4 separate regions of the Homo sapiens genome follow, and regions 2, 3 and 4 are each linked to region 1. The links come from fine-mapping of genetic effects on gene expression. A gene starts in region 1. Each other region holds a variant in brackets. All regions are shown on one strand. Distances are between the middles of the regions.

Region 1 (8,211 bases):
CACCCCAGGACCGACTGCTGTTTCCCAGACACTGGGGGTCTGGCTCTGACACAGCCACAGAGCAGGCCACGGGAGGGCCACTCGGACACCCAATCAGTCTCTCCCTCTAGCAGAGACACCACGCGGGGTCCTGTTACCAGCCCTGGGAGGCTCCCGTGAATTTATCGCTCCCAGTCCCTGCCCACTATTTGCTGGATGATCTTAACAAGTCACTTCCTCTCCCTGGGCCTCAGTTTCCTTGGTGGTAAAAACTGCTGGACCAGCGGCTTTCAAACTTTTTAAAAAGCCACAGAATCCTTTTTAAAAATCAAATGCTCCGTAGAAGCCCAATATAGGAAATAGTAAAACGAGGGCTGCCCTGCTTGAGAAGAGGTCAGGCTTGGCTAATCTCCTATGCTGTGTCCACACCTGCTCAGCACCCGCCCTCACCAGGCCATATCACCCGGGTTCTCCTCGCACTTCCCAAGTCAGAATAGGAATCCCAACACTCTCCGGTGGATGAGGGTCTGCACCCCAGGGGCCAGGGGGTAGAGGATGATGGGAAAGCGGGTTCTGACCAGACAAGTGACTGCCGTCAGACCTGTCTGGCAAGCAGGCCGCCCCTTGGTCCAGCCACACAGCGGGGGCACAGGGGCCTCGGCCAGGCCGCGGCAGAAGGCAGCCCAGGGACCTACCTGCGCCGGCCGCCGGCGCCCGCGGATCCCGCACCCGAGTCCTGGCCGCACAGGTGTGCGGGCGGGGGCGAGGCCCAAGCGAAGGAGCCCCCGCCTCGCCCCCGGCCGCTCCTCCCCTCCCCGGGCGGAACGCAGGCCCTCCTCGGCCGCGGAGTGGGCGAGCCGGCGGCAGCCCCGGTGGCGGCGGGGAGGCTGGAGCACCCGGCGCCTGCGGAATTTTCTCCCCATCCCGCCCCCAGCAGGGGCCCCGCAGGCGCTTCCTGAGGTCAGAGGGCTCGCCCTGGCCCCACGCGGAAAAGTACCAGCCACGGCCGGGGGGCCGAGACGGGCCCGGCGCGCTCAGGTGGGCTGCGGAGCGCCCTGTCTGCTCCCGGCAGCTCCACCCTCGGGGCCGGCCCCGGGGCCAGTTCCGGAAAGCCGGCGGGCAGCCGGGCCCCGGGGGACCCGGGTCAGGGCTGCACCGGCGCCAGTGCCCCGACCCTCCCCGGCCCGAGCACCCGGGCCGCGGAGCCCGCTCCTGGGGCAGAGCTCCACGGCCCGGCCCGGCCGGCTCCCCTCGGGCCCGGCTCCCAGACGCGCTTGCCTTCCCCGGGCCCCGGGCCCCGCGCCCTCGCTACTTACCCTGGGGAGCCCTGGCGGGGAAACTTTTCCAGGCGACCGCCGCGGCGGCTCGGGCGCCCCTCGGCCGCCCATGCCGCCCGGGCCCGACTGCGGGCCCGCGTTCCCAGCGCCGTGGGCCCCAGCGCGTCCGGCCCCGCGCGGCGGCCCTGCGGGGCCTTCTGGGGCGCCCGCTGCCTCCGGCTCCTGGTAGGGGCAGGTAGGAAGTGGGGCAGGCGATCCCAAAGTCCTCGCGGCCGCCCGGCGCGTCCCTCAGGCCCCGCTGCCGTGCCCCCGCCCCCGGGCTCGGCTCTTCGCCCCGCGAGCTCCCCGGGAAGACGGCCGCGGAGACCCGAACTCGGAACCAAAGGGAAAGGCTTGGGGGAGGCACTCCGAGCCCTGCCTCAGCCGGACTCTTGGGGGACTGGCCCTCTCCGTCCCCCGCTTCCCCACTCCTGGGCGACGAATTTGAGCCTGACCGGGTTAAGTGCCCAGGGACGGCGGACCTGGGGTCCTCCACTCCCAGGTCGAGGGAGGACTGCACGGCGGCAGGACCAGCCTCCTCTTGGCCTACTGTTAGAGGAGTCACGACTTCGTCTGCATTTGTATAGACAGGTGGATATATGAGCAGAAGTAGCCCACCTCCTTTTAATATTTTTAGCTTTTTTTTCTTTTTAGACACCAACCGCTTGCCAGGCACCAGGCCAGTCACTTTACATTATCTCCTTCTTATGTACATGATTTAATCCACATAATCCTTTCAGGCTGAGATTATTAATCCCATTTTACAGATAAGGAAACTGAGGCGCACAACGTTTAAATAATTTGCGCAAAGTCCCACAACCAGCAGACCTCAGATCCTGCAAGAGACTGGGGTGTTTGGCAGAGCCTGAATCCAAGCTACTTGCAATATACCAGCCGGAGCCTCTCCCTCCCTGGGCCCTAGAAAACGTTTGTGCTACTTGGCTGAGGCCGACGCTGCTTGAGCTGAGAAAGAAAAGAAGGAAAATGTGGCCAGGAGCTTCCCAGGCTGGGTTATTCCAAGGTCGCAGAGTAGCCTGTGCCCATCTCTTCTCGCTCCCTGTGAGATAACCTGGCTGCACAGGATCAGCCTGTGGCCTCCTTAACACAGGTTCCCGGGTAATGGGAAAAAAAAAATCCACTGAGTGTTTTCTATGAGCCAGGCACCATTGAGAGCTCTTTTCCTGTGTCAACCCGTTTTATCCTCACCACATGCCCCATGAGGTGGGTACAGTACATTTTCCTTTAAGTACCTTTGATGTATCACTGTCTGCATTTTATAGAGGAGGAAACTGAGGCCCAGAGAGGTTAAATCATGATAATTCTTAAGGCAACTGGTGAAAAATCAATCAGCAAACCGGTTCAAATCCCTGGGGCACTATTTTTTGCTGGGACACCTTAGACAAGTTAATTTCTCAGGGACTTCCTCAATTTACCCCTCTATAAAATGGAGATAATATTTAGTGAATGGGATCAGGTACGATTCGGGCACCTTTACAAACACTGCAAGAACTGGAAACTGGAGGAACAATGCTGGGTCCTCAAAGTTGAGCGGGAAGATAAGTCCAGTTGGCCTTGTCCCAAAGTGGGGACTTCCCCTCCGCCAAGGAACTAAGACTTGTAGGGGCCACACTGGGTAGCGCCAGCCACAGTTGGGAGAACAATACTCCAGCAGTCAGACTGAGGCAGGAAGTGACTCACGCTTCTTCCTTAGGCTGTGAGCAAGAGAACTCCATTGAGGGGAAACAGGGACAGGGCTGGCCCCACCTACCCACTTGTCCTCAGGCCTAGAAGAAAGGTCAGCCCAGAAAAATAGCAATACTTGCTGCTTCAGGTGCCCCACCCATCCTGGAGACTGGCCCCAGGGGAGCCCGCAGTGGGTCTTTGGAGGGGGAGGGGCTAGCCTAGGCTCAGATGACTGCCACCCAGGCAGAGGCGGTGGGAAGTGGAGCTTCCCAGTTTCTTCCAGCCAGCTTGCCTCTTCAATCTGCATAAGGCAAAATTCTTTAAAGTGGGTTCTCAGAGGTGCCTCCCTGAGAGGGAGGAATGAGGACAGGATTGGGCAGTTGAGCACCTCTCTCTGCTTCACCCAGAGTGTCTCACATTTTAGGGTTTCACATGAGATTGTATTTTACAACAATTCTGCTGCTAAAAAGAATTTGAAAGCCACTCTCTGTGAGACTTCTCTGGAAAAAAATCCCATTTGACCACAACTGGTGACTTCTGCCTTTATCTCATTGCAACAAGTCCTGTGGGCAGGTATTGTTCTCTTTATCACTCTCAACTGGCCCTGGAGCCCAGGTCTCCTGACCTGGGGCCCTAGGGGCCCAAGGTCCTCTGGATCCCACCTTACCAGTTTTACACAGCAGTTAGCAGGACTTGGGCATGTGACAGAAGTCTGGAGATGAGTGAGAGGAGCAGGGCCTGATGGGTAAGTGGGGGCTGTAAAGGGGCTCCATTTTCCCAGCAGGGCTCTGGGAGGAAGAGTCCAGCTAGGCCTCTCTTTATCCTTGATTTGGGGCTAATCCAGAGAGGCTCCTGAGAATCACATAGTCCTAAATCCACCCAGTCATCCTGACTCCAAGCACTCCTGTTGTCTCCTTGGGGTGCTCTGGGAGTCTTCTCTGAAATCTCTGGTCCACCTCAGGCACAGCAAATAAAGCCTTCGGCAGCAGCACCCACACCTAGTTGTAAGCAGAATGTCTACACAACATTCAGACGTGCATAGAAGGGTGCACAACAAAATTCCATTGGTGTTCTCTCCGAATGAAAGGGTCACATTTGCGATCTTTGTTTTCTTCTTTTTGCCTACCTGCATTTTTCAGGAATGTCTACAAGAACTCCTAAAATAATTAAACCTTTAAGTCAATGCAAAATCGAATAAAGCATGTCCATACTTCACCATCCAGCTCCAGAGCACCTGGGATTCATCCTGGCCGCTGCTGCTTCCCCGCCACTCACTGCAGCTGCAACAGTCAGGCTCCTATCCCTTCACAGGGCGGGGCCCTTCCAGTTCTGGCTAAACCACTTTGGGAAAACCTTCTTTATATGACAGGCAAACAGGGTGTCTGTGGGTGGGGGGAGGAGCTAAAAGTGATGTGGTGGTGACATATCTGGTCGCACTGGAACTGGATCCTAACATGGCCAGCCAGCCCTTCTCATTTTCCTCATTTATTGGGGTGGGTCTGCACTTACCTTCTGCCTGGCTTTGCTGCATCCCAGCCACTGGCTGACTTAATGACTTCCTTCCGCCAGCTCCAGCTCCTTGTGTTCTGCCTTGCCTTCCATGGCCAGCCAGTGCTGCCACAATTATGTACCTAATAAATGCTTTGGGTGCAGTCTCGCCTGGCAGACATTCATTGAGCAGCTGCTGAACGCTGGGCTCTGGTGCCCCATAGCTGGGTCCCTTAGAGCTTGTCCATAGGAAGCCAGAGACCACCTCTCTAGTAGGGTTGCATGGAGGTACCTGGGACACACCAGGGTCTTCCTCAGTCTGCGACCTCCCTGGCCTTCCAGCTTCAACAAGCCTGCTGCCCATCCTTCTCTCTCTCGATTCAGAAATGTGAATCACTCAATCCTCATAGTTTTTTTTGTTTGTTTGTTTTATGGGTTTGTTTTTTTTTTTTCTAGACAAGAGTCTCGCTCTGTTGCCCAGGCTGGAATGCAATGGCCTGATCACAGCTCACTGCAACCTCTGCCTTCTGGGTTCAGGCGATTCTCATGCTTCAGCCTCCCAAGTAGCTGGGATTACAGGCTTACGCCACTCGTATTTTTTTTTTTTTTTTTTGTATTTTTAGTAGAGATGGGGTTTTGCCATGTTGGCCAGGCTGGTCTCGCACTCCTGACCTTAAGTGATACACCCACCTCGGCCTCCCTAAGTGCTGGGATTATTAGGCGTGAGCCACCACGCCCGGTCCCCTTGTTGAGTTTTCAATCAGTTTGTCATCCTGAACAGGGTTTCTCAACCTTGGCATTATCAACATCTTGGGTCGGATAATTCTCTGTAGGGGACACTGCACTCTACATTGCAGGATGTTCAGTCGCATCCCTAGTCACTAAACATTAGCTGCTAGTAGCATTCCCGCTCCCATGATGACAACCAAAAAGATCTCCAGGTATTGCCAAATGTCCCTTGGGAGACAAAAATCTCTCCCAGCAAAGAACCACTGTCGCAGAATGAGGAGTGGGAACGTCACAGGATGGTGGTTAGTGTGCCAGGGTTCGAGGCAGCAAGAGTTGTCTGCTGGGAACTAAGCTCTGAGACAGCTAGCAGTGAGGGAGAAAACTCCCAAACTTGAAACTGCCCAGTATGCCAGCACAACAATGGGCCGTTTAGTGATCAGGGCAAACAATCATGCATCCTCATGACATCTGAGATCACTTTCCATCGTGTTGGTGATAATGCTGAATCAAGGAAAGGATCAATCATGTTGATCATACTCCATTTTCTAAGGTGGGGAGGTGTGTGAGCCCTTGTAGCATTAAAGACGTATTTGGAAAACAGATCAGTGCTTGCTTGGGGAAGGGGGCAGGGAGGGGCGGGAGGAAACTTTTGGGAATGATGGACATGTTCATTATCTTGATTGTGGTGATGGTTTCATGGGTGTGTCCATATATCAAAACATATCAAGTTGTACACTTTAAATCCATGCCGTTTATAGTGTGTCAGTTATACCTCAGCAAAGCTGTTTTGAAGATGTGTTGTTTAAAGTTTTAGTGCTTGAAGGGCATTATTTTGAAAATTCACTACTGTGGAGTAGTCCATTTCTTTGCTGAATAAATAAGGGGTCACTGTAGTACTTAAAAAGAAAACAGGAAGAAAAAACAAACAGAAGAAGAAGAAGAAAAGCGATCATGGGCTGTAAGGTCGTCCTAGGCAGGGAAGGAAAGGAATGGCGTGAAGAGTTGGCTCAGTCGCCCCTGAGTGTGGCCCGGAGAGCCTGTCCTCTGGCCTACGGCAGGCCCCAGAGAGTCTTTCCGTTGACTGATGCCATCAAATCAACATGTCTGGAACGGTATTATCAGGGACTTGGGAAAAATAGAATGACAAATGTGCTGGCTGCCAGGAAAGGAACAGATGAGTCTGGAAATTATAGGCTCCTCCACAAACTTTAATCCCTAAAACAAACATTGCTGGGGAAAAAGTCAGTTAATACCTGGAGGAGTGTGAGTGCTGTCCTTCAATGGGGCACGGCACACCTGGGAGCAGAGAGCATTTACAGAAGCCAGACACCGTGTGCCAACCTGTGTCAACAGGCTCATGCTCAAGGGGCTGCACGTGGCAGCAGGGAGCACTGCGAGCGGCAGTGAGGGGCCCTCTCTGACGGTGCAGATGCTTTTTGGCTGATGGAGACCTCTACGGAGGTTCTCAGGAGCCCCTCAGCGAGGCGGGTGAGCAAGGAGAGGGGCTGTGATAGCGATGAGTTATATGTGAAAAGAAAAACTGCTTTTGTGGAGGTTGATTGTGCACTGGGCATTTCATTCACTCATTCCTCAGATACTCATTGAGTGCCTGCTGGGTGCAGGACCTCTTCCAGTGCTTCAGTTATAGCGAGGGAAGCAGGCAGTTCACAGGTGAATAAGCCAGTTTATGAGAGAAGTTCAGATCATCCTAAGAGCTCTGGAAGAAAATGATAAAGAAGGTAATGTGGGAGTGCCTGGGGAAGCGGGAGGGCTGCTATCCCTGGGGTGGTCAGGGAAGACCTCTGGGAGGAGGTGATGTTTGAGCTGAGGCTGAAAAAAGAGGCAAAAGTGTAAAGATCTGGAGGAAGAGTGTCCCAGGCAGAGGGAGAGGCAAGGACATGGGCCTGGGGGCATGAGCTTATGCACTTGGGGAGCAGACACTTCTTGGAGCATGGCCGAGAGATGAGATGAGAGGTAGGTAACGGGCTGGATCACAGAGCACTTGCCAAGCTGGGTCCAGATGTTGAATTTAATTATCAGAGCAATGGGCTCTGGATTCTCAAAATTCTTTTGGAAATTTGACTGATTTACCCTTTAATAAAAATTATTTATTTATTTATTTAGAGATGGAGTCTTGCTCTGTCGTCCAGGCTGGAGTGCAGTGGCGCAATCTCGGCTCACTGCAACCTCCACCTCCCTGGCTCAAGCAATTCCCCTGCCTCAGCCTCCCGAGTAGCTGGGATTACAGGCACACACCACCACACCCGGCTAATTTTTTTGTATTTTTAGTAGAGACAGGGTTTCACCATGTTGGCCAGACTGGTCTCGAACTCCTGACCTCAGTCAGTCCACCTGCCTCAGCCTCCCAAAGTGCTGGGATTACAGGCGTGAGCCACCGCGCCCAGCCATTTTATTTTTATATTTTTAAATTTAATTTAAAAGATGGGCTCTCACTCTGTTGCCCAGACTGGCCTCAAGCAATCCTCCTGCCTCCCCCTCCAGAGGTGCTGGGATTACAGGCGTGAGCCACCGTGCCCGGCAAATTTACCCTTTTTAAAGGCTCCTCTGACTACCATGGGGAGTAGAGATATGGGGGTTCGTGTGGGAACCCACCACAGCCCGACGCAGGAGGCACCATAGGTGACCCTCCTGATGTGAAATGTAGGGGACTGGCTTGGGGGAGTCCAGTGACTTTTTTTTTTTTTGAGACAGTGTCACTCTTGTCACCCAGGCTGGAGTGCAGTGGTGCGGTCTCAGCTCACTGCAGCCTCTGCCTCAGCCTCCCCGAGTAGCTGGGATTAGAGGCATGTGCTACCACGCCCAGCTAATTTTTTGTATTTTTAGTAGAGACGGGTTTTCATTTGCTACGTTGGCCAGGCTGGTCTCAAACTCCTGACTTCAAGTGAACCACCTGCCTCGGCCTCCCAGAGTGCTGGGATTACAGGTGTGAGTCACCGCCTTGAGTGACTCTATAAGCGCCCAGCCCCTGAATGACTTACAAACCAGTGAGCAGGTG
Region 2 (8,000 bases), 60 kb after region 1:
TCGGTACTCTGGCAGGAGGATTAGCACATACAAGATTTTGTTTATGGACTTAACAAGAAAATGACAATTTGGTAATGTCTGCCTTCCTTTCTCTTTCCCCACTCAGTTCTTGTTTTTTATTACTCAGAAGGACAAGAGGTAGAAAAACTGCAAAAGAAAACACAACAGCTTGCAAAAGTTGACTGTGGACTTTTTTTTGGTTTCTTTTTTCTGCAAGCAACTCTGTTACAATATACAGTTACTTTGGGGTCAAGTTCTCAAGACTGATGGAATGGTCTCCCTCCTGCCAGGCCTAACCTACTAGCCAGAAGGCAGAGGGTGCCCTGGCAGAAAATCAAAAAGCGGCTGTCAGAAACAATGCAATTATGAAGAAAGAAGGAAACTGCCAAGATCATCACACATATCAGACCATGCTGTCTTTGTTGTTCCCCTGGTGTGCAGAAAGCGCCCAGAACAGACATGTCCCAGACGAGCGGCCCAGGAAAACATGGGAAGGGGAAGACAGAAGCCATTTACGCAACCCCTAAAGAGGCCTGGCTTGACTGAACTTTTGGTTTCTCTGTTGTGGCTTCTTCTTGCTACCCCTGCAAAGGCTGGGAGGTCGATTCTCCCAGGTGTTAATGAAAGGCAGGGAGTGTGCACGTGCTTCAAGGTGGAGATCCATGGGATTCTGCAGCAATAAAAGCAGCGGAGCAAGTACTGACAGAATAGTAAAAGCCACGAGGACACAAAACCCTTTGTTATTTATTCAGCTAGTGTATGATTTATAGTATTGTAGGTGGAAAAGTCTCTTAAGAAGAACAATCATCCCAAACAGGCAAACAAATATCTAAGGGAAGATCAACATGGAAGACATCTTTGCAAACAAGAAACATTAGTCAGGCTGAGTGCGGTGGCTCACGTCTGTAATCCAGCACTTTGGGGAGACCAAAGTGGGCTGATCACTTGAGCTCAGGAGTTTGAGACCAGCCTGGGCAACATGGGGAAACTCCATCTGTACAAAAAATACAAAAATTAGCCAGGAGTGATGGTATACACCTGGAGTCCCAGCTACTCAGGAGGCTGAGGTGGGAGGATCACTTGAGTACAGGAGGCAGAGGTTGCAGTGAGCCGAGATTGTGCCACTGCACTCTAGCCTGGGCAACAGAGTCAGACTTTGTCCTCAAATTAAAAAAAGAAAGAAAACTTTAGTCATAACTATTAGTCAGTAGATGTTTTAAACATCTGAAGCAAATATTTTTTGTTGTTTCTTGAAGCAAATATTTTTGTTTTGGATCAAACCTTAATTGTCACTCCATTAACAACTGTCATTCCATTAGCAATATTTAATAATGGCTTATTTTAATAAATCCTTCAAAGCAAGGCAGAGCTGTTGCACTTTTGTCCTTTCTTCCCTTGTTCCCTATATTGAAAAAGATGTCACAAAACATACCCCTTTGCCTTGGAACCACTGGAAGCAGTTTTTCTCCTCTTAGACCTTTGGGAGGCTGGCATCTTTTTCCTCTTCCTTTCATTTCTGGTTTTACTTGCAAAGTAGTGGGAAGATACGGGTATTTCCTCGTCGAGCTCCTCAGCGGCACTTCTTCCGGGGCCTCTGCTGCTGGACAGGCTTATCCCTGGGGAACTGTCTTCAGCTACAAATGGAAAATGCAGATGTTTACAGGTGATGTCGCACTGGTCCACGTGTTTTTAGTGTATATGAAGAGACACGCTGCAGGGGCCCATTTTAGCAGATACCTAGCTGCTTCCCTGCCATATGGATTCAACAATTCAGCAAGAACCAAACCTTTTTTTACTGCACAAAGCCCCAAAGTGTTCAATGGCAATTCATTTTTAACAAAAGAGAATCAGAATTCATTAAAAAAATTTGTGATAGTCTTGAAGTTAACTAGAGACATGAGGTTTAGCTCATACTGTCGCATATGGCCTGTGTTCCTGTTGTTGATTGGGCAGTTAGTTCTGGTAGGCAATTCAAAAAGTATCAACTGCTATAAAGATGGCAGGCAATTTTACTTATTTTAAATGTGCTGAAAAAATCAGCTCAATATAAGGGAAACAAACGGTCCTGTATCTCATCTTTGAACAATAGTTTCTTAGTAAATGAACATAAGAAAATTCTAGATCCTATTTTACTCTTTACAGACAAAAAAACTTGTCTTTGCACAATATGGCTGAACATGTCACATATTATGCGGGAGGTGAGACCGCATGAAAGCACACATTTGCAAAGAAGATGGTAATTTCCATAAGTATTTGCATCCCAAGGCACCCAAAAAGCATGAAACCTCCCTATAGATAGCTCACACGGGGACCCAGTCTCCATTTCCTGGCTGGTCTGCCTTGTCCTACAGGCCACCCTACAGGAGCAGCATGGAGGGCACAGGACTCCACCATGGCTGCTCCAACCCTGGCTCACTGTCAAAATGTATTCGGAACAAGGCTTTTAATGGACTAATTACCATATAGAAGAATTTAGGAGAACCTGACCAGGTGTGGTGGCTCATGCCTGTAACCCCAGCACTTCAGGAGGCTGAGGCAGGTGGATCACTTGAGGTCGTAAGTTCAAGACCAGCCTGGCCAACATAGTGAAACCCCAACTCTACCAAAAAAATACAAAAATAAGTCAGGTGTGGTGGTGCATGCCTGTAGTCTCAGCTACTGGGGAGGCTGAGGTGGGATAATTGCTTGAATCTGGGAGGCATAGTGAGCCAAGATTGTGCCACTGAACTCCAGCCTGGAGTGAGACTCTGTCAAAAAAAAAAAAAGCGACTAGGTAAAGAGAGAACTTGAACTATCTCATCCTGCTCATCATTTCCATCATCCTTGGGAAGACCCCCACACTGCCTGTCTGGAAGCAGGAAGAACACTGAACCGGGCCTGTCTGTTGTGTCCTATTACGTGGTGATGTTATCAGAGGGCAGAAGACTTCTGTGCTCTCAATATTTCCTACAACAAAATGCTTTGTTGTTCTCATTTCCCCCAGGTCAATGATTTCTAAAGCTGTAATGATGATGAAGCTCATGATTAGAAGTGCCACAGGACAGGCCTAACGTGACTCCGGGAACGTCTGATAATGATGCACTCAGGCAGGTTCTATCAATGACTAACAATAATAACATTCTAGCTGCATGCTCATTTCTCCAAAACATTTAAACACTAGTCTTAAATTTTATCTTTAGACATGTTTGTCAGATAACATGTTCCTTCCTTGGTGGAGGAACCTGATTCACAAAGAGGCTATTGGTGGCCTGCTAGAGACCACACAGCATGACGTGGTGGCAGATCTGGAACTGGTACCCAGGGCTCTGATCCCTTGAGCACTTGCATTACGGGAACCAGCAACCCCTGGGCCCAAAGGTCCCCTTTTGGATCCTATGAGTAAGTTCAGAACTGGCACTCACAGGGGGCATAAGCACTAGTGTCCTCTCAGAGGTGACTGGCACACCACTGGGGGCTGACTTGGATGTCAGTGTGACGAGGTGTAGGAAGCATTCACACAACTGCATCCTTCTAATTCAGTGAGACGCGTCGCTTCACATTAAACAGGCTTTTAGAGAACACACATGGCTGTGTACTAACCTGGCGATGTCCATTCAGAGTATTTCTGTAATACTGAAATCACTTCCGCACCATATTTTTCCAGTTTGTCTTCAGTAACACCATCAATTTGAAGCAAAACCTCAGGATCAGAAGATAAAGATTCTGTGCAAAGGCATAAAATTAGGAATTTAAATTATCACCCATAGAAAACCCACTGAATTCAGGCTCATTCACGCATTCAGCACACGTCTGCTAAGTGCCAACTAACTGCAGGGTACTGGGAACACAGGCCAATTTTGTAAAAGGCAAAGTTAGCACCTCAGAGGCAGCAGACAGGCACAGAGGGCAGGAACCCACCATCCAATTCCAGCGGCATAGGCCAGGGCAGAGCAAGGGCAAGAGCCAGGGCAGGAGGAAGCTGAGGGTGGGACCTGTGCCATGTGCGTGGAGTGGAGCAGATCTGCTCTTGCCCACTGTTCCCATGGCCAGTACTCATCTAGCTGAGACTGGTGTGCCCTCTCTTTACTGAGAACGCTGCATTTCTATTTCCAGCTCCAGCCTCTTCTCTGCACTCCAGACTTGTACACCCCACCCTAGA[C/T]GGCATAACCAAATTGTTACTTCCTCCAGCACAAACTTTTCTTCCTCCACTCTTTCCCCATGTGGGTTGAGGCAACAAGCAGCCAGCTGAGTCCTCTGCATAGAGGTCGCATATCAGTCTTGCAGCTAGACAAGCCTGTCATTTAAAGGCCACCCTGGCTGCTGTTTAAGAACTTGACTGTAAAGGAAAGAGTAGAATCCGGGAGCCTGGTGGAAGCCATTGCAGGAGCGAGTGAGGATGGAGTGAACTGGAATGCAGTAGTGGAGACACAGTGAAGCAAGCTTGGGTGAGTTTTGGAGGCTGGCTCTGTAGGACTGACTGATGCACTGGCTCTGGGTAGTGAGGGAGTAACCATTCCTATGTATTTGAGCTGAGCAAAGAGTGGATTTCAAATCCTTTCCCATCTGTGATTTTCACATCATTCCCATGTTTAGAGGAAAAGCAAGAGACTGTGGACAGAACAGAAGGTTTATGAAGGGGGTTTAATGAAAGATAAAGTAGGAGAGGCAGGAAGAAATGTAGACCCTTGATAAAATGTATACTTTATCTGGGAAGCTGTTGTAGTTTTACTAGGTTTTGAAAGATTAAAATGTACATCACATTCACAGCTGGAGGTAAGGAGGACAGTTAAGAAACTACACTAATCGCCTAGAAATAACATATCATAAAATACCAAATTTCATCAATTCTAAGACACACACCTTTTCACAATTTAGCATTCCTGAGGTCAAGATATGTCTTAGAACTGCTGATGGCTAAATGGCAGCTGCCTTGCGGTTGTTACTGCTCATGCTTGTGAGAACTTAGTCATAGCTATTAGTACTGTCAGCATGTCAACAAAGTCACTGCACTGTTTGTACCTCATGTATTGAGTCTAACTGCCATGACATGTCTTCAAAAAGACTATACTGTGATTAGCATTAAAAAAGTGATTGTGAATGCAGAAAAGTTCTGAAACAGAGTAGCAGGGAATACATTTGGTATTAAGAAAAGCACTATCTGGCTGAGCGTGGTAGCTCATGCCTGTAATCCCAATACTTTGGGAGGCTGAGACAGGGCGGATTGCTTCAGCCTAAGAGTATGAGACCAGTCTGGGTAACAGTGAGGCCCTGTCTCTGCAAAAAAATAAAAAAGCTAGCCAAGCATGGTGGTACATGCCTGTAGTTCCAGCTACTCAGGAAGCTGGGGTAGGAGGATCACTTGAGCCCAGGAGGTCTAGGCTGCAGTGAGCTGTGTTCAACCACTGCACCCAGCCTGGGCGACAGAATAAGATCTTATCTCCAAAAAAACAAAACAAAGCAAAACAAAAAAAACCCAGGCACTATTTGTCTCTGAGGACACAGGCCCCCAATTCCATAGTTTCTCGCAAGTACAACCAAGTGCTTTACGTGACCTAAGAAAGAAGATGCCCAAAGTAGATGAGGCCGCACTACATTTTTGTTACTGAGAGATGTACAACCTTCTGTTGACACCTTCTGGTATCATCAAGAAACCACCACCTTCAAAACAGAACTGATAACAGAGATTTCGATTAAATCCTGGGGAAAATAGTGGAACACTCTGGAAATGCCTTATGGCTAATGAGAATGTTAGTGATGACATAGGGAAAAACAAAGACATGGACGACTCAGTCAAAAAGTGACTCAGAAGAGTCAGGCTTTGAATGTGAACTTTTATAAGTACCTACGGTAATTTGATTATATGTATTTTTCATACAGGCACACAGCTGTGGATAATAAAAATCAATGTCTAAATCAGTAAAACACAATTTTTTCAATAAAAGCACTGTGTCATAGTTTAATTAGCAGAATTTTTTCTTCCTTAATAGTCCATAAAGTAACAGTATCTTAATATAGTTGGCATCTTAGAGTCAGTGAAATATTGTAATGACCGATTATCGTAGGAGAGGGAATGAAGAAGAGAGAAGGTGATGATTATGAGATTTTATGAAGAAGAATATGGAAGGTAATATAGCCCAGCTGGCCAACTATATGAAGACGTTGTTTTCCAGGAACTCTACTACTGAAATTCTGGGTTGGGCTATCTGCCCATGGAAATAACTCAGACCAGTAAGTATTTATTAACTAAAGACATAGCAGTGTGCTAGATCCAGATTCAAAGAAGCATAAAACATAATCTCTTCATAAGGAAACTAGCTCTTCATTGCAGACTTTTTTTTTTTTTTTTTTTGAGATGGAGTCTCGCTCTGTCGCCCAGGCTGGAGGGCAGTGGCACGATCTTGGCTCACTGCAACCTCCACCTCCTGGGTTCAACCAATTCTCCTGCCTCAGGTTCCCAAGTAGCCGGGATTACAAGCGCCCGCCACCACGCCTGGCTAATTTTTGTATTCTTAGTAGAGACGGGGTTTTACCATGTTGGCCAGGCTAGTCTCGAACTCCTGACCTCAGGCAATCCGTCCACCTCAGCCTCCCAAAGTGCAGGGATTACAGGCGTGAGCCACGGCCCCCAGCCCATTACAATATTACAATTGGTCATTACAATATTTCATTGGATCTAAGATGCCAACTATATTAAGATACTGTTATTTTATGGACTATTAAGGAAGAAAAAATTCTGCTAATTAAACTATGACACAGTGCTTTTATTGAAAGAATTTTTTTTACTGATTTGGACATTGATTTTTATTATCCACAGCTCTGTGCCTATATGAAAAATACATATAATCAAAGTAAATGGTGGGCGCATGCCTGTAATCCCAGCTACTCGGGAGGTTGAGGCAGGAGAATCGTTTGAACCCAGGAGGCGGAGGTTGCAGATATTTGTACATAACACAGCTAAACACTACAAAGCAGGCAAATAATCAGCACAAATAATGAAGTAATGTCTCGTTTTAGAAATTACAATAATCCGGCCGGATGCGGTGGCTCATGCCTGTAATCCCAGCACTTTGGGAGGCTGAGGCAGGGGGATAACCTGAGGTCAGGAGTTCGAGACTAGCCTGGCCAACATGGTGAAACCCTGCCTCGCGGGTTCAAGTGATTCTCCTGCCTCAGTCTCCCAAGTAGCTGGGATTACAGGCACCCACCACCACACCTGGCTGATTTTTTGTATTTTTAGTAGAGACGGGTTTTGCCATCTTGGGCAGGCTGGTCTTGAACTCCTGACCTCATGATCCACCTGCCTTGGCCTCCCAAAGTGCTGTGATTACAGGCGTGAGCCACCGTGTCCGGCCAGATCATTGTAATTTCTAAAACCAGACATCACTTCATTATTTGTGCCGATTATTTGCCTGCCTTATAGTGTTTAGCTGTGTTATATACAAATATCTGCAACTTCTGCCTCCTGGGTTCAGGCTACTTTCCTGCCTCAACCTCCCGAGTAGCTGGGATTACAGGCATGCACCCACCATTTACTTTGATTATATGTATTTTTCATATAGGCACAGAGCTATAATTAAAATTATACCATATATAACATACATAGGGTACCATTATACCATATATAACAAAGTACTATATATATGTTAAAGAACATATTTTATCTTAAGAATGAGTTTAATATTCAATGGTCTTCAGATGTCCTTAAAAAAAAAAGAATAAGTTTCGGCCGCGCATGGTGGCTCACGCCTATAATCCCAGCACTTTGGGAGGCCGAGGTGGGTGGATCACCTGAGGTTGGGAGTTTGAGACCAGCCTGACCAACGTGGAGAAACCCTGTCTCTACTAAAAATACACAATTAGCCGGGCGTGGTGGCACATGCCTGTAATCCCAGCTACTTGGGAGGCTGAGGCAGAAGAATCGCTTGAACCTGGGAGGCGGAGGTTGTGATGAGCTGAGATCGCGCCACTGCACTCCAGCCTGGGCAATAAGAGTGAAACTCCGTCTCAAAAACAAACAAAAA
Region 3 (8,000 bases), 73 kb after region 1:
AAAAGCAGGGCCTCCCAAAAGAACTCAGTTGTCATAAATTGCCTCCCTGGGAAAAACCAGGGAAGGCTGACCCTTTTAAACAGAGATAAGACTTCACACCACACTTAAACAGACATTGTCATAAAAACTTTGTATCTCCCATCTGGTCTCCTAACAGTCCATCTGTCTTTCCTAACAGTCATTTGTTTTTCCATAAGTGCCCCCCTCCTTCTCCCCTTCCTCTATTAAGATGGTATATAAGCCCCACATTCTAACTGCCCCTTTGAACCACATTTTTCTGTGAACTCCTATCCACACATGACTAAATCTGTCTTTTCCCTTGCTAATCTGTTTTTTGTTGGTTTAATTTGCAGGCCCCATCACTGAACCTAAGAGGGTTGAGGAAAAGTTTTTCCTCTTTGACATGTCTTTAACTCTTAGTATTCTCAAATCTCGTGGCCATATGTCTTAATTTTTTTTTTTTTTTTTTTTTTTTTACAGGCATCTTATTTGGCATTCAGTGAGCATTTTAATCCAAAACTTTTATCTCTTCCACTCTAGGAAGTTTTCCTAGATCATTGGTTTGATAATTCCCTTTATTTTCTATTTCCAAAATTTTTGTCAGATTTTACATCTACTGAGGATTAATCCTTTCTATGCTTTCTCTATTTTCCATATATCATTTTGATCAGTTCCTAAATTTTCTTGACTTTATTTTCCAACCTCTCCACTAAATTTACTTTGTCAATCATTTAAAATTGACAGCTCTTTCTCATTTTTATTTCTTTTCCATTATTCAATTATTATTTAAGTATTTATTTTAAAAACTCTTTAAGACGATACTAAGGAGTCTTCTCTCCCCTCTCTCCCAAACTACTATTTTCAATTATTTCTATCACCCAGGGTCAAATATTCTATTTATTTGGTCTTCCTCTTTACTGTCCATTTCTTTCTTTTTTTGAGATGGAGTCTCACTCTGTTGCCAGGCTGGAGTGCAGTGGCGTGACCTCGGCTCACTGCAACCTCCACCTCCCAGGTTCAAGCGATTCTCCTGCCTCAGCCTCCCGAGTAGCTGGGATTACAGGTGCCCACCACCACACCTGGCTAATTTTTGTGTGTGTTTGTTTATTTATTATTTTTGAGACACAGTTTCACTCTTGTTGCCCAGGCTGGAGTGCAATGGTGCGATCTCAGCTCACTGCAGTCTTCACTTCCCGGGTTCTAGCGATTCTCCTGCCTCAGCCTCCCGAGTAGCTGGGATTACAGGTGCATGCCACCATGCCTGGCTAATTTTTTGTATTTTTAGTAGAGACAGGGTTTCACCATGTTGGCCAGGCTGATCTCAAACTCCTGATCTCAGGTGATCCGCCCGCCTCGGCCTCCCAAAGTGCTGGGATTACAGGTGTGAGCCACTGTGCTCAGCCCCTGAGAGATTTTTAAGGCACTAATCTGATAATAGTCTCTCTCCTATTCTCTATGCTGTTATGGGTCTAATCCTCATTTTATTTCCTTACTGACATTTTAATAGTTACATTCCACCCACTCAGATGAACTCGCATAAGCTTTATTATTTTCTTCTTTGTATGTGAAACCATCTCAACTTAGTGACATATACATTATATAAAACAGTATAATAATTGACTTTCTTTTGTTACTTAAAAGTTTTATTCAGAAACTCAAGTTTTATAAGAAAATAGACAAAAAGTTTTTCTATGTACTTGTAATAAATTCTTTAGATGTTCAATTTCAATTGAAGTAACTCAAACATTCAAAACAGATGACTTACCCAAGAAAATGTCGACCAGCATATTCATAGTAAATCTTCCAGAAGGACCTACATGTTTTATATTTCTCATTCCTTGTGATGAACTATGTTCTTGAACAAATCTTACAATACTTTTCACATCGTCAGTCACATCTCTTGTTTTATAATCCTATGAATAAAAAGAGAATACTTTCTGCTATAATTAAGGTAACAATGCCTAGATTACTAGGGTTTAATATTAACTATAGTAGATTCATCATAACCCATTTCCAGACCAATACCGAGACCAAAACCTACGGAAATTTCAAATGTTCATTCTTATCTAAGTTCTAGAACAACTACCACTCGATGTTGTTACTGTTTCACAGAGATACGTCTTGTCTTTCAACTACCTGATAGCACTCTGTGGGTAGAAACACATATATAACACACAGACACACACACAAACACACAATTTAAATCCTCCATGCCTCCTAGAATAGTGCTCTGTTACATACTGGGTGGGAACCTGTGGGGTGCCACGTAAATCCACGGATTCTAACCCCTCTGGGGTCTTTGGTGCCATAGTCAACGCTCTTTTCATCATCTCCTGCTAGTTTCCTTTCTCATTTCCTTCAGCTATCCCCAAACTTTGCCCACTTTTTAGAGTCCCCGTTACTAGATGACTTTTTGCCTTTCTCTCCCCTAGTTCTCTCTACCATCAATACTGACCACTCACAGGTGTAAAAAGCTGCATCATGCTTGGTGCTTCTGTGTATGCAGCCCTCCCTACCTTCTAATCCTTGTCATTTGCACACACCAATAACCTGGAGATGAACAGGTTTCTGGTCTTACACTAACAACTGCAAGTGATTCTGAGGCCCTATCTAGAGTCATCAAGAAAAAGTGCCCTGTCACTCCATTCCTATCTTAATTTTTTTTTTTTTTTTTTTTTTTTTTTTTTTGAGATGGAGTTTCGCTCGTCGCCCAGGCTGGAGTGCGATGGCGCAATCTTGGCTCCCTGCAACCTCCACCTCCCAGGTTCAAGCGATTCTCCTGCCTCAGCCTCCTGAGTAGCTGGGGTTACAGGCACCTGCCACCATGCCCGACTAATTTGTCTGTATTTTTAGTAGAGATGGGGTTTCACCACGTTGGCCAGGCTAGTCTTTAACTCCTGACCTCAGGTGATCCGCCGGCCTCAGCCTCCCAAAGTGCTGGGATTACAGGTGTGAGCCACTGCACCTGGCCATCTACCTTAATTCTTGGTGATTAGGTATACAGAGCTGATCCTCTTACTTTGGTCTTTTGGTTCTTGATCTCCTCTGCTCCAATGATCCTGTCCTCCACATACATCAGCCGCTCACACTTCCTACCTTAAGCTTACTAATAATGGCAACTCCTCCATTCTCAGACCACCACATCCTATCTTTCCAACTCATACCATGTGGTATTCTGACTCCAACAATCCCCTGGGAATGCCCATCTGCTGATCCTCAACCTCAGATGTCCTCCTAACTCAGCTGAAATTCCAGTCGATCATTATAATCACTACCTCTCATAGACCCTCAGCTCTCTTGCCCTTAGATCACTTCAACATATTACCTGGCAAAACATAATGGATCCAATTCTCCATCTCCATAGGTCCCTGTACCTATGTGGCTGAACTTGGCATTTTCACTGTCACTAC[G/A]TGGCCACAAAGCTCGAATGGACTGTTAATGCTGTAGGCAATCATTATCTTTATACTTCCCTAGCCTATCATTCCTCCATTCTCTCACAACAGAAGTCAGCAAACTATGGCCCAGGAGCTGGATGCCTGTTTTTGTGCATAAAGTTTTATTGGAACACAGCCATGGAAGATGACTAGAAAATTGGTGTATTTATTATTTATGTCTGCATTTAGACTACAATGGCAAAGCTGTGAGTCGTTGTGACAGAGACTATGGCTGCGAAGTGTACAATATTTATGCTGTGGCCCTTTAAAAGCAAGTTTACTGACCCCTGTCCTAGACAACTATTTCATACTTTCTCCTTTCTCTTCCGTCCCTTCTCTTATCCCGACTGTCAGCTGATGGCCATGCTTTAAATATCACCCATGTGCCACCAGTCTGTTTTCAGAATTTTTGAATCTTAATATGTAATTCAATATTAGATTCCCAATTTAGGTAACCCAAACCAAACTCCTGATCTTCTCTGCCAACCAGCCTTCTGCATCTTAGCCAAGGATAACTCCATCCTTCCAGTTACTCAGGCCTCCAGTTACTCTGGGACTCTAGCCCTCAACTGACTGCTCTGGCTCTCCATCACCTCTTCCCCTCACTGGCTCTTAATCCTGCTCAGCCACATGGGCTCCCTTGCCATCTCTCGAACACACCAGGCACACCCCCACCTTAGGGCCTTTGCTCTAGCCAAAGCTTCTTGCAGGAAAGCTCACATCCAGGGAGCTGCCAGCTAACTCCCTTCTTCAAGATTTTCCTCAGCTCCCATCTTCTCAGTTAGACTTCCAAGGACCACCCCGTCTAATACTGCATCCTGCACTCTACCCATTCCTCCTGTCTTTTTACTCTGCTGTGCCATTCACCACAGCTCTTATCCTTTCATGTATATTTATTGTGTATATTGTTTGTAACTGGCCTCCCTCTGCTAGAGTGTAAGCTCCACAAGGGCAGGGATTTTCATTTTGTTTAGTGATGTATCCCAAATTCCTACAACAGTGCCTGTTACACAGCCCAACAAATATCTGTTGAATGAGGGAACTGATAGCAATGTTTAAGGGATGGGGTGGGGTGGGAGGAGATGGCATGAATTTGCCAGTTCCACACTGAGAGAGACTACCCTCTGTTCTGCCCTGTGCTCTGTATTTTTTAACTATACTTACTGAGAGTACTAAACTTTTTTTTTTTTGATGGAGTTTCGCTCTTGTTGCCCAGGCTGGAGTGCAATGGCATGATCTTGGCTCACTGCAGCCTCCACCTACCAGGTTCAAGCGATTCTCCTGCCTCAGCTTCCCAAGTAGCTGGGATTACAGGCATGGGCCACCACAGCCGACCAATTTTGTATTTTTTTAGTAGAGACAAGGTTTCACCATGTTGGTCAAGCTGGTCTTGAACTCTTGACCTCAGGTGATCCTCCTGCCTCGGCCTCCCAAAGTGCTGGGATTACAGGCATGAGCCACTGCGCCAAGCCAGAGTGTTAAACTTCTATGAACACATGTATGTCGGTCTCCACTCCAGTCTATGAATTGGTCCATACCATGGTCACTTGTGGCTCTCCAGCATCTTGCACATATAAGTCTAATACTCCCAGATAGGTAAATAATACACCAAACGTGAAAATGCTCAGTAAGCAGTAGGTTACAGTAGACATTAAAATGTAGAATTACCAAGATAGGTAAAATAAGTACCTAATGACTGAATTTAACAACCTTCCAAGGGTATTTTAGGACAGATAATAGTGAATTTATCCACAAGCAGTTACTGTTATTCTTTATAGTTAAAAAAAAAGAGTAATGTAATTGATTTGAATTCAAACATACGGTACACTAGTTATTACTCTTTTGAGAATGAGATTTTTAGTATATTAATTAAATATTTAAAATATTAAATATTAATACGTCAATTTTAATATATTTAATTTAATCAATTAAATTTTTAATATAATGTATTATATTAATAACATTAATATATTAAATTTAAAATATTCTACCTGCCCATGTTGGATCTTTTTGGATGTTTGCATATTAATATTTCTAAAATATTCTGTAATCATCAGTGCACATATATAAACTCAATATTCTGGATATGCTGATGTCCATTATATTTTTTAACAGGGTTCTAATTATAAAGAAAAGATACCGCATGAAATTACTTTTTAAATGTTTCCATTCCAAATTACTACTGGAAGGAAGCTGTCTTTCCCCTGTTAATCTGTCGGAGACCACCTTTTGCAATCTAATTTGTATCTACATTTTTAAAGTAAGAGAAAAAAAATTTAATTATAAAGAATTTTAAAACTTCTTTTTTTACCTTTGTTTTACAGCAATTATCACAAGAAACATCTGGGTGTTTCTTACAAAAATCAGGATTAAATCCATTTTCACCAAAGTAGGCCAAAAGCTGTATTCTCCTGCATTCCGTTATATTTTCACAGTAATGTACCATGCTATACAAATTATTGAAGTGAGTTTCTCTTGTATGATGGTTTCCATCTTTTTCCACTAAAAGAGATGAAGACTATAGTAAGACATACTTATAGGGGAAAAATAGAGCATATCATAGAAATATTTAGAATAGATTCATATAACTTTAAATATTAAATAAGAAAATTACTGTTAACAGCATTGTCAACATGGCATTCTATATTATAATTAACTGAGTATTAATGTTCATCCTCAAGATTTTAGTACTATAGGAATAAATGTTAGGTTTTTTTTTTTCAAATCTTCATTATCCCCAATGATGATGGTTTGACTTATATTTGCTGTATTTATCAGTCGAGCATCCACCGAACTGAACATCCTGAGGAAGCAGAGCCTGAGATTACGGCAGTGGCCATGCACTTCTCTGAGTATCTGAGGTCAAAGTAGTTACACCAGTGGTTCCAAAATTGTGTGCCAACAAGCCCGGGGGTGCTGTGGTGAACTCACAGAGACAGAATATTTTACATGAAGGGAAACACAGCAATGCCTAACATCTGTTGAACATCACCCAAATTATTAGCTTGAGGTAGTTAATGGTATTAACATTAGATTGTGCTACATTCCTATTAGCAATATCTCATCTTTGCAAAGCTGGGTTTTTCGCAGTTGCTATGATAAAAAGAAGTATCTCAAGAAAATCAATGTGAAACAGGAAATGAGGGTGGCAGTGTCGGATTTGATTCCAATGTGTGAGAACAGCAGTGGCATACTTTCCATCAGTAAGCAACTGTTGTTACTTAAGAATTTTAACACCAGGTACGGTGGCTCACGCCTGTAATCCTAGCACTTTGGGAGGCCAAGGTGGGCGGATCACCTGAGGTCGGGAGCTTGAGACCAGCCTGGCCAACATGGCAAAACCCTGTCTCTGCTAAGAATACAAAAATTAGCTGGGTGTGGTGGTGCGAGCCTGTAATCCCTGCTAGTCGGGAGGCTGAGGCTGAGAATCGCTTGAACCCAGGAGGTGGAGGTTGTAGTGAGCTGAGATCGTGCCATCACACTCCAGCCTGGGTGACAAAAGCGCAACTCCGTCTCAAAAAAAAAAAAAAGAAAATAATTTTTAAAAAATATTATTTTTTTCTTCCAGTTTATGAGTATTTTTCCCCCAAATAGTTGCTGCTATCAGGACTTAAATATCTATTAAATTGTTTGGGCCTAAATTTTTTTTTTTTTTGGCCTCGGCCTCCCAAAGTGCTGGGATTACAGGTGTGAGCCACCATGCCTGGCCATGTTTGGGCCTAGCTTTAATATAGATTTTAAAAAAAACACAAATGGGCAAACCAAGTGTAAATATTTAATTTTCTTCACTGAGAATCACTTTGGTATAGTGCAAGGAACATGGACTTTGGAATCAGACGAACTTGGGTTCTGTCAGGGCTCTACCATTTACTAGTTCTGCATTTCATTTTCCTCCTCTGTAAAATGAGGAAAGCAAAGGTTTTATCTCTGAGGGTTATTGTGAAGATGAAATTAGTTGATGATACATGTAAGGCATTTAGAATGGCACATAGGAAGGGCTAAATAAACACTTATCTATAATAATTACCATTGTTATACTACTACTACAACGACTCTTATTGCTCCTGCCATATCAGTGATCCTGGGGAAAAGTTACAAAACCTTTCCGAAGCTCACTTTTTATGGGAGTACCTCTACATCACAAGTTAGTTGTTTTGAACAAATAAGGTAATGAGGTGATATATGCAGTGTTGGGCACAGTGCTTGGTAAGTGCCATTTCCTATGCACTGTACTTCTGCCAGAGTTAATTTAAAAGTGGTCTCGGCTGGGCATAGTGGCTCACGCCTGTAATCCCAGAACTTTGGGAGGCTGAGGCGGACAGATCACTGGAGGTCAGGAGTTCAAGACCAGCCTGGCCAACATGGTGAAACCCTGTCTCTACTAAAAATACAAAAATTAGCTGGGTGTGGTGGTGGGAGCCTGTAATCCCAGCTACTCAGGAGGCTGAGGCAGGAGAACTGCTTGCATCTGGGAGGCAGAGGTTGCAGTGGGCCGAGATCGTGCCATTGCATTCCAGCCTTTGCACTTCAGCCTAGGCAACAAGAGCGAGACTCCGTCTCAAAAAA
Region 4 (8,211 bases), 38 kb after region 1:
GTTTGAGACAAGCCTGGCCAACATGGTGAAACCCCATCTCTACTGAAAATACAAAAAATTAGCCGAGAATGGTGGCACGTGCCTGTAGTTCCAGCTACTCGGGAGGCTGAGGCAAGAGAATTGCTTGAACCTGGGAGGCGGAGGTTGCAGTGAGCCGAGATCGCACCATTGCACTCCAGCCTGGGCAACAAGAGTGAAACTCTGTCTCAGAACGAACAAACAAACAAACAAATCCAACTTTTGTTCCTTTGCAGTTCCGCCCTCACCTTCCCATAACTTGTCCCACTCAGCTCCCAGTCATTTGCTAACCACTGTCTGAGCACTGAGCCTATTCATTTCTCCATTTTTCCTCTCCTCAACCTTCTGGCCCCTCTTTGAGTTCATATTTTGCATGTCTCATGTGCATGTAATAAGCCTGTTCTTTTTTCTCTTGTTAACTTGATTTTTGTAATAGAGGTGCCGGTCATGACCCTTTACATGGGGAGAAAAGGGATCACCCTCCTTCTGCCCCTGCAGTTCAGAGAAAGGTAAGTCCAAACAATTTTAGATTAGATTGCACCGTACCAGTTCTATTTTAAACTAAATATATTCTATTTTACTTGAGTTTAACAGAAAAAAAAAAAAAGGCAGATCAGGTGCTATGGTTCACACCTGTAATCCCAGCACTTTGGGAGAACAAGGTGAGAGGATCCCAGGAGCTTGAGACCAGCCTGGGCAACATAGTGAGACCCCTGTCTCTACAAAAAAATTTTTAAAAACTAGCTGGGTGTCAGCTGCGTGTGGTGGTTCACACCTGTAATCCCGGCACTTTGGGAGGCCGAGCCAGGCAGATCACGAGGTCGGGAGTTCGAGACCAGCCTGGCCAATATGGTGAAACCCCGTCTCCACTAAAAATACAAAAAATTAGCTGGGCATGGTGGTGCGCACCTGTAGTCCCAGCTACTCAGGAGGCTGAAGCAGAAGAATCGCTTGAACCCGGGAGGCGGAGGTTGCGGTGAGCCGAGATTGTGCCACTGGACTCCAGCCTGGGTGACAGAGCCAGACTCCATCTCGAAACAAACAAACAAACAAACAAACAAACAGACAAACTAGCTGGGTGTGGGAACATGTGCCGCCTGTAATCCTAGCTACTCAGGAGGCTGAGGCGGAAGGATCACTTAAGCCCAGAAGTTCAGAGCTGCAGTGAGCCATGATTGTGCCACTGCACTCCAATCTGGGCAACAGAGTGAGACCCTGTATCTGAAAAAAAAAAAAAAAAAAGGCAAAAAAACCCAGAAAACTTGCTGAATCTTAGATAAATATTTACTTTCCACAAGAGCTATTACTTCATAATGAATTCCTCATGGTTAAGAAAAAAGATTATGAAATTAATTAAGACATTGGAGTCTTGGGGTAAAAACTCAGATGTTTCACTTTGAGCAAGATCAGTCATTTCTTGCGATAAAAAAGGCGACCACTCCCCTCAAACATCCTCCCTCTTCCTCTTGCCCACCCCAGCTCTGATTTTGATGCTGATATTTTTACTTTGTCAAGGTTTATTTATTTTTATTTTTATTTTATTTTATTTATTTATTTTTGAGACAGAGTCTAGCTCTGTCACCCAGGCTGGAGTGCAGTGGCGTGATCTCAGCTCACTGCAACCTCTGCCTCCCAGGTTCAGTCTGGTCTCAAACTCCTGACCTCAGGTGATCCACCTGCCTTGGCCTCCCAAAGTGCTGGGATTACAGGTGTGAGCCACCACGCTCAGATTTTGTCAAGGTTTGTAACACTTTTACTTTAAAACCATAATTCTCCCAGTATTTAGTCTTTTTTTTTTTCTTTTTTGAGAAGGAGTTTCACTCTTTCTGCCTGCAACTTCTGCCTCCCGGGTTCAAGTGATTCTCTTGCTTCAGCCTCCTGAGTAGCTGAGATTACAGGCGCACGCCACCACGCCCAGCTAATTTTGTATTTTTAGTAGAGATGGGGTTTCACCATGTTGGCCAGGCTGGTCTTGAACTCCTGACCTCCAGTAATCCACCCACCTCAGCCTCCCAAAGTGCTGGAATTATAGGCGTGAGCCACCATGTCTGGCCGCCTTTTTTTTTTTTTTTTTTTTGAGATGGGGTCTTGCTCTGTCGCTCAGGCTGGAGTGCAATGGTGTGATCTCAGCTTACTCTAACCTCTGCCTCCCGGATTCAAGTGATTCTCCCTACTCAACCACCCCAGTAGCTGGGATTACAGGCACTGGCCATCATGCCTGGCTAATTTTTGTATTTTTGTACACAGAGTTTCGCCATGTTGTCCAGGCTGGTCTCAAACTCCTGAGCTCAAGTGATCCACCCATCCTGGCCTCTCAAAATGTTGGGATTACAGGCATGAGCCACCATGCCTGGCTATCAGCATTTAGCCTTATAATGAAATTGAAATAGATTCCATTCCATTCTTTTTTTTTTTTTTTTTTTTTGAAGCAGAGTTTTGCTCTTGTTGCCCAGCCTGGAGTGCAGTGGTGTGATCTTGGTTCACTGCAACCTCTGCCTCCCGGGTTCAAGTGATTCTCCTGCCTCAGCCTCCCAAGTAGCTGGAATTACAGGCATGCACCACCACGCCTGGATAATTTTTGTATTTTTATTTTTAATGTATTTATTTATTTTTGAGATGGAGTTTTGCTCTTCTTGCCCAGGCTGGAGTGCAATGGCGCGATCTCCGCTCACGGCAACCCCTGCCTCTGGGGTTCAAGCGATTCTCCTGCCTCAGCCTCCTCAGTAGCTAGGATTACAGGCATGCGCCACCACGCCCGGCTAATTTTGCATTTTTAGTAGAGAGGGGGTTTCTCCATGTTGGTCAGGCTGGTCTTGAACTCCTGACCTCAGGTGATCTGCCCGCCTCAACCTCCCAAAGTGCTGGGATTACAGGCTTAAGCCACCACACCCGGCCTTCCATTCCATTCTTTAATGACATTTTGTCCAGGTGCCTGAAGAGTTTTTTCTTTATCCTTAAAGTTCAGTAACTTGGCCGGGCGCAGTGGCACATGCCTGTAATCCTAGCACTTTGGGAGGCCGAGGCGGGCTGATCACCTGAGGTCGGGAGTTCGAAACCTGCCTGACCAACATGGAGAAACCCTGTCTCTGCTAAAAATACAAAAATAGCTGGGCATGGTGGCACATGCTTGTAATCCCAGCTACTCGGGAGGCTGAGGCAGGAGAATCGCTTGAATCGGGGAGGCAGAGGTGGTGGTGAGCTGAGATCTTGCCATTGCACTCCAGCCTGGCAACAAGAGCGAAACTCTGTCTTGAAAAAAAAAAAAAAAAAAGTTCACTAACTCAGCCAGTATGTTCCTATGTTGGTCATTGTGAATTTGCTTCCCTGGAGTAGTCATGCCCTCGCAGTCTGTAGAGTTGGTTCTTCGTTTCAGGAAGACTTTCTCTAAATAGCTTTTTGTTTCAGTTGTTGGATAATCTACTTCAGGGAGTGCAGTCACCCTGATGTTGGAAGGTCTGGGACCCATAATGGTCATTTTCTCTCTAATTGTTTTAATTTGTCTTTTTCTCTAAATTCACTGCAATTATTTCAAGTTTCTCTCCCACACTATTCCCTTGCTTTTCAGATGCATGTACTATGTTGTAACTCTGTTTTTAGATGTGTCATGGTCCTGTTTTGGTTAATGCGTTTCCTCCCCTCTGCAGTTTCTTTGCATTTCCTGATATATATATTTTTTTTGTCATCTCTCCTTTTTTTCTTTTCTTTGAGACAGAGTCTCGCTCTGTCACCAAGGCTGGAGTGCAGTGGTGCAATCTTGGCTCACTGCAACCTCTGCCTCCTGGGTTCACACCATTCTCCTGCCTCAGCCTCCTGAGTAGCTGGGATTACAGGCGCCCGCCACCACACCCGCCTAATTTTTGTATTTTTAGTAGAAACAGGGTTTCACCATGTTGGCCAGGATGGTCTCAAACTCCTGGCCTCAGGTGATCTGTCCGCCTTGGCCTCCCAAAGTGTTGGGATTACAGGCGTGAGCCACCGTGCCTGGCCTGTCATCTCTTCTTTGTGCTCTTTTCATTCAACTTTTTTTTTTTTTTTTAAGAAATGGGGCTTCACAAGGTTGCCCAGGCTGGTCTCAAACCCCTGGGCTCAAGTGATCCTCCCACTTGGCCCCCCTAGCAGGTGGGCCTGACAGGCGCGCACCACTGCACCCGGCTCGTGCTTTTTATACCTGGTTCATATTCTCATTCACTTTTGTCTAGCGCGAAGCTATCAGTTCCAAGAAAGCCACTCAGGTCCTTGGCTCTGCTGGCTTTCAGCTGTGCCCC[T/C]GTGTGATTTCCTTCCCTTTCCTGGCACTTGCGTGTAGGGAGGCGTTGCAAGTTTTTTTCATCTTGCTCGGTTAGCTAACTCCTGACGTTTTACTTGTTCTGCTACGGGAACCTTCCTGTCTTCCCCGAAGAAGGGCAGTTTTGAGGCTGCATTGTTTTCAGTTGGGTAGCCTGAGTGCGCAGAGGTGGGTGGGAAAGTCCCCCCGGCTGAGGCCACCCTGCTGGGGGCCACAGGTCTTCTCTGTCCTGTCATCCCCTAAACATCCTGTGCCCAGCCTTCTGCCCTACTCCTCACCCCAGCAGCTGAACACGATAGCCTTGGAGGTCCCTTCTCACTCTGTCACCCAGACTGGAGTGCAGTGGCAAGATCTCGGCTCACTGCAACCTCCGCCTCCTGGGTGCAAGCAATTCTCCTGCCTCAGCCTCCTGAGTAGCTGGGACCACAAGCGTACCATCACAGCCAGCTCATTTTTGTATTTTTAGTAGAGATGGGGTTTCACCATGTTTGCCAGGATGGTCTTGGATTCCTGACCTCAGGTGATCCACCCACCTTGGCCTGTTGGCTCACTCTTTTCCCAAAAATTTGTCATTGTTGTGCATGTGGTCAGGTATTGGGGTTGGGGAGTTCGCCCCTCATTCTGCCTTCTAAAGTCTGAACTCCCCTCCTCAGGAGGCTCTGCAAAATGCCAATCTCCAGGGCCTGTCCACCCCAAGAGCAGAGGTCCGTGGGTCTGGGTGGGACCTCTCCCTCCCGCCCAAGTGATGCACCTGAGCAGGCTTGGGGTTGAGAAGTGCAGACTCATCCACCAGGAGCATTTGCATTTTACTCAAATTAAAGAAATGCAGCCCTGCTTATGTAAGTCTATATGGCACTGAAATTGAACAGTCCTGGAATGTCCAAGTGGGTGGGCGGACTTGATTATCAGCTTCCAGTGAGGGTCATTCTATTGGTGAGGCCTCGAGGCACAGAGAGGCGAAGTGACTTGCCCAAGGTCACCCAGCATGTCGGCAACAGGCAGGTTTGAAGAACTGGAAATGGTGACTCCAGACCTGGGGGCTGGGATCAGGGTGGCCCACTTCAGGGAGCAGGAAGGTCTTAAAAATTTAATTTTAATTTTTTTTTTTTTAAGACGGAGTCTTGCTCTGTCGCCCAGGCTGGAGTGCAGTGGCGCAATCTCAGCTCACTGCAACCTCCACCTTCTGGGTTCAAGTGATTCTCCTGCCTCAGTTTCCCAAGTAGCTGGGACTACAGGCATGTGCCACAACACCCTGCTAATTTTTTCTATTTTTAGTAGAGAAAGGGTTTCACCATGTTAGCAAGAATGTTCTCGATCCCCTGACCTCGTGATCTGCCCACCTCGGCCTCCCAAAGTGCTGAGATTATAGGCATAAGCCACTGCACCAGGCTAAATTTTAATATTTTTTTTTGAGACAGAGTTCACTCTGTCCCCCAGGCTGGAGTGCAGTGGCATGATCTCGGTTTGCTGCAACCTCCACTTCCTGGGTTCAAGCAATTCGCGTGCCTCAGCCTCTCGAGTAGCTGGGACTACAGGCATGTACCACCACGCTCGGCTAATTTTGTATTTTTAGTAGAGATAAGGTTTCACCATGTTGGCCAGGCTGGTCTCTAACTCCTGATCTCTAGTGATCCGCCGGCCTCGGCCTCCCCAAGTGCTGGGATTATAGGCGCGAGCCGCCGCACCTGGCCAGGAAAGTCTTTTAGTATGAGGAACCCATTATCATTTCCGGGCCTCACAGAAGAAATGGTTGTGGCCTTCCCATGGGAACTTTTGATCTTGAACCTCACGGAGGGAGAATGGCCAGACCAACGGCTCACTGCCACTCCCAGCCCTCCCAGGAGCAGTGACCTCTCCACCTCCCCTCGTCCCCGCCCCGCCCCCATCCACGCACGGTCCAGGCAGCAGTGTCCCAGCAGAGCTGAGCCCAGTGGTGAGTGTGGGCCGGGCAGCGGGTGGAGAGGTCCAGGTAAGGAAGCAGTATCAGAAAAGGTGGGGAGACTGGGATTAGGTCGGGTCAGGCCTTTCTGGGAGGATCCCACATCCATCCGGGGAAGAAGCTACAGGCTACTTGGGCCATGACTAGCAGCAAAGCTTGGCCCTCTGACCGGGACCCTGGAGGGCAGTTGGGCCAGGATGTCCTGCTGGGGCGCCCTGGGTGTCATCAACCCCTGGCGCTGTTCTCATCTTGCCCCACTTTGCAGTGATCTGGAGGGGCCAGCCTGGTGAACATCAGGCAGATCCTCATTCGTTTCATGGCCTTGGTGATTCAGCTGCTTTGGCTGTGAAAAGGGAAAAATTACTGGACCCCTCCGAATCCCCTGCGGTTGTGAGGATGAATTCGTGTGAAGAGCTGAGCTGAGATACAAAAATCGCAAGGCCGGGCGCGGTGGCTCACACCTGTAATCCCAGCACTTTAGGAGGCCTAGCTGGGTGGATCATTTGAGGCCAGGAGTTTGAGACCAGCCTGGACAACACAGTGAAACCCCCACCTCTACTAAAAATACAAAAATCAGCCAGGCGTGGTGGCGTGCACCTGTAATCCCAGCTACTTGAGAGGCTGAGGCAGGAGAATCACTTGAACCCGGGAGGCGGAGGTTGCAGTGAGCCGATATCATGCCACTGCACTCCAGCCTGGGACGACAGAGCGAGACTCCATCTCAAAAAAAAAAATGACTTGAACCCGGAAGGCAGAGCCTGGTGCACTCTAAACACAGGAGCTCAGGAACCGCGAGAGAGCTCAAAATAGATCCATGACACAAGGTGACAAAGATAGTATTGGAATTTTTTGGTGAGGATATGGGAAAAAGGATCCAGCTGTTCACCACAAAACTGAAATTTAATTTCTCTGGGACGTTTCTGCTCTTTCCTTGCTAAACTTCCCTCCTTCTCCTTTCCCGCCTCCCACCCGGCCCCAACATCCCCTCTATTGTCCAGCCCCAGCCTTCTGCTGGCACAGCCCTGACCAAAAGCGGGGTGTGGGGGGTTGCCCACAGCGGCCCCCAAGTGTCCCTGGGACGCGTGAATCACGACAAGGGTTACAGCTTGCCAGGCTCCCACTGCACACGAAGCACATTTGGACATTGCAGACTCTGCATCTCTGTGGCAAGGACTGCCACAACCCCCTTGGACCCAGGAACCCCCAGGAGGAAGCGCTAGTACCGGGTGTCAATGTGGCTACCCAGCGCCCGCTGCTTCTGAAGCTAACCTCGAATGCGTCGCCCACATCCATGGCTTCTCTTCTGGGCGCTTCACAGTAACCGTGGAGTAAGGTGGGTAAGTTACCGCTACTCATTTTCCTTGAAATCCCATTTCTCAGGTGAGAGAGAAAAGCTCAGAGAGGCCAAGGGCTCGGGGCAGCTGTGGTGCCACGCCCAGCCCTTTGGTCTGAACTGCCCCATAGACTGCATACAGGTCCCATTGTGTCCGGACTTGGTGGGTTCTTGGTCTCACTGACTTCAAGAATGAAATCGCAGACCTTCACGGTGAGTGCTGTAGCGAGTTCTACAGTTCTTAAAGGCGGCGTGGCCGGAGTTTGTTCCTGACGTTCGGATGTGTTCGGAGTTTCTTCCTTCTGATAGGTTCGTGGTGCGGCTGGCTCAGGAGTGAAGCTGCAGACCTTCGCCGTGAGTGTTACAGCTCCTAAGGCGGCGCGTACTGGAGTTGTTTGTTCCTCCCGGTGGGTTTTTAATCTCACTGGCTTCAAGAGTAAAGCTACAAACCTTCATGGTGAGTGCTACAGCTCATAAAGTCAGTGTGGACCCAAAGAGCAAGCAGCAGCCAGTTTTACTGCAAACAGCAAAGCTTGCATAGTGTGTAAGGCAACCACGGCTGGCTTCGGCAGCCCGCTTTTATTCTTTTATCTGGCCCCACCCGCATCCTGCTGATTGGTCCATTTTACAGAGAGCTGA

Evidence for each region.
Region 2: its variant is fine-mapped to the expression of FURIN in blood mononuclear cells (TOPMed, PIP above 0.99). The same link has a PIP of 0.9 or more in monocytes and whole blood.
Region 3: its variant is fine-mapped to the expression of FURIN in whole blood (TOPMed, PIP 0.97).
Region 4: its variant is fine-mapped to the expression of FURIN in whole blood (INTERVAL, PIP 0.97).

What each region holds. Positions count from the first base shown.
Region 1 is chr15:90,864,690-90,872,900 of GRCh38, reverse strand. FURIN (furin, paired basic amino acid cleaving enzyme) reads right to left here and starts at 4,313. Exons shown (of 16, transcript NM_002569.4): 1 at 4,190-4,313. RefSeq lists enhancers at 82-131, 392-581, 2,848-3,142, 3,080-3,189, 2,928-3,222 and 2 more and silencers at 682-1,321, 1,362-1,571.
Region 2 is chr15:90,804,839-90,812,838 of GRCh38, reverse strand. BLM (BLM RecQ like helicase) reads right to left here. Exons shown (of 22, transcript NM_000057.4): 20 at 3,580-3,702; 21 at 1,433-1,634. Among named protein-coding and RNA genes, the nearest start is that of FURIN, 60 kb to the left of the region's middle. The variant C/T (reference allele first, on the strand shown) is at 4,139.
Region 3 is chr15:90,792,103-90,800,102 of GRCh38, reverse strand. BLM (BLM RecQ like helicase) reads right to left here. Exons shown (of 22, transcript NM_000057.4): 16 at 5,746-5,936; 17 at 1,766-1,913. Among named protein-coding and RNA genes, the nearest start is that of FURIN, 72 kb to the left of the region's middle. The variant G/A (reference allele first, on the strand shown) is at 3,411.
Region 4 is chr15:90,826,341-90,834,551 of GRCh38, reverse strand. No RefSeq gene overlaps it. Among named protein-coding and RNA genes, the nearest start is that of FURIN, 38 kb to the left of the region's middle. RefSeq lists an enhancer at 4,373-4,462. The variant T/C (reference allele first, on the strand shown) is at 4,284.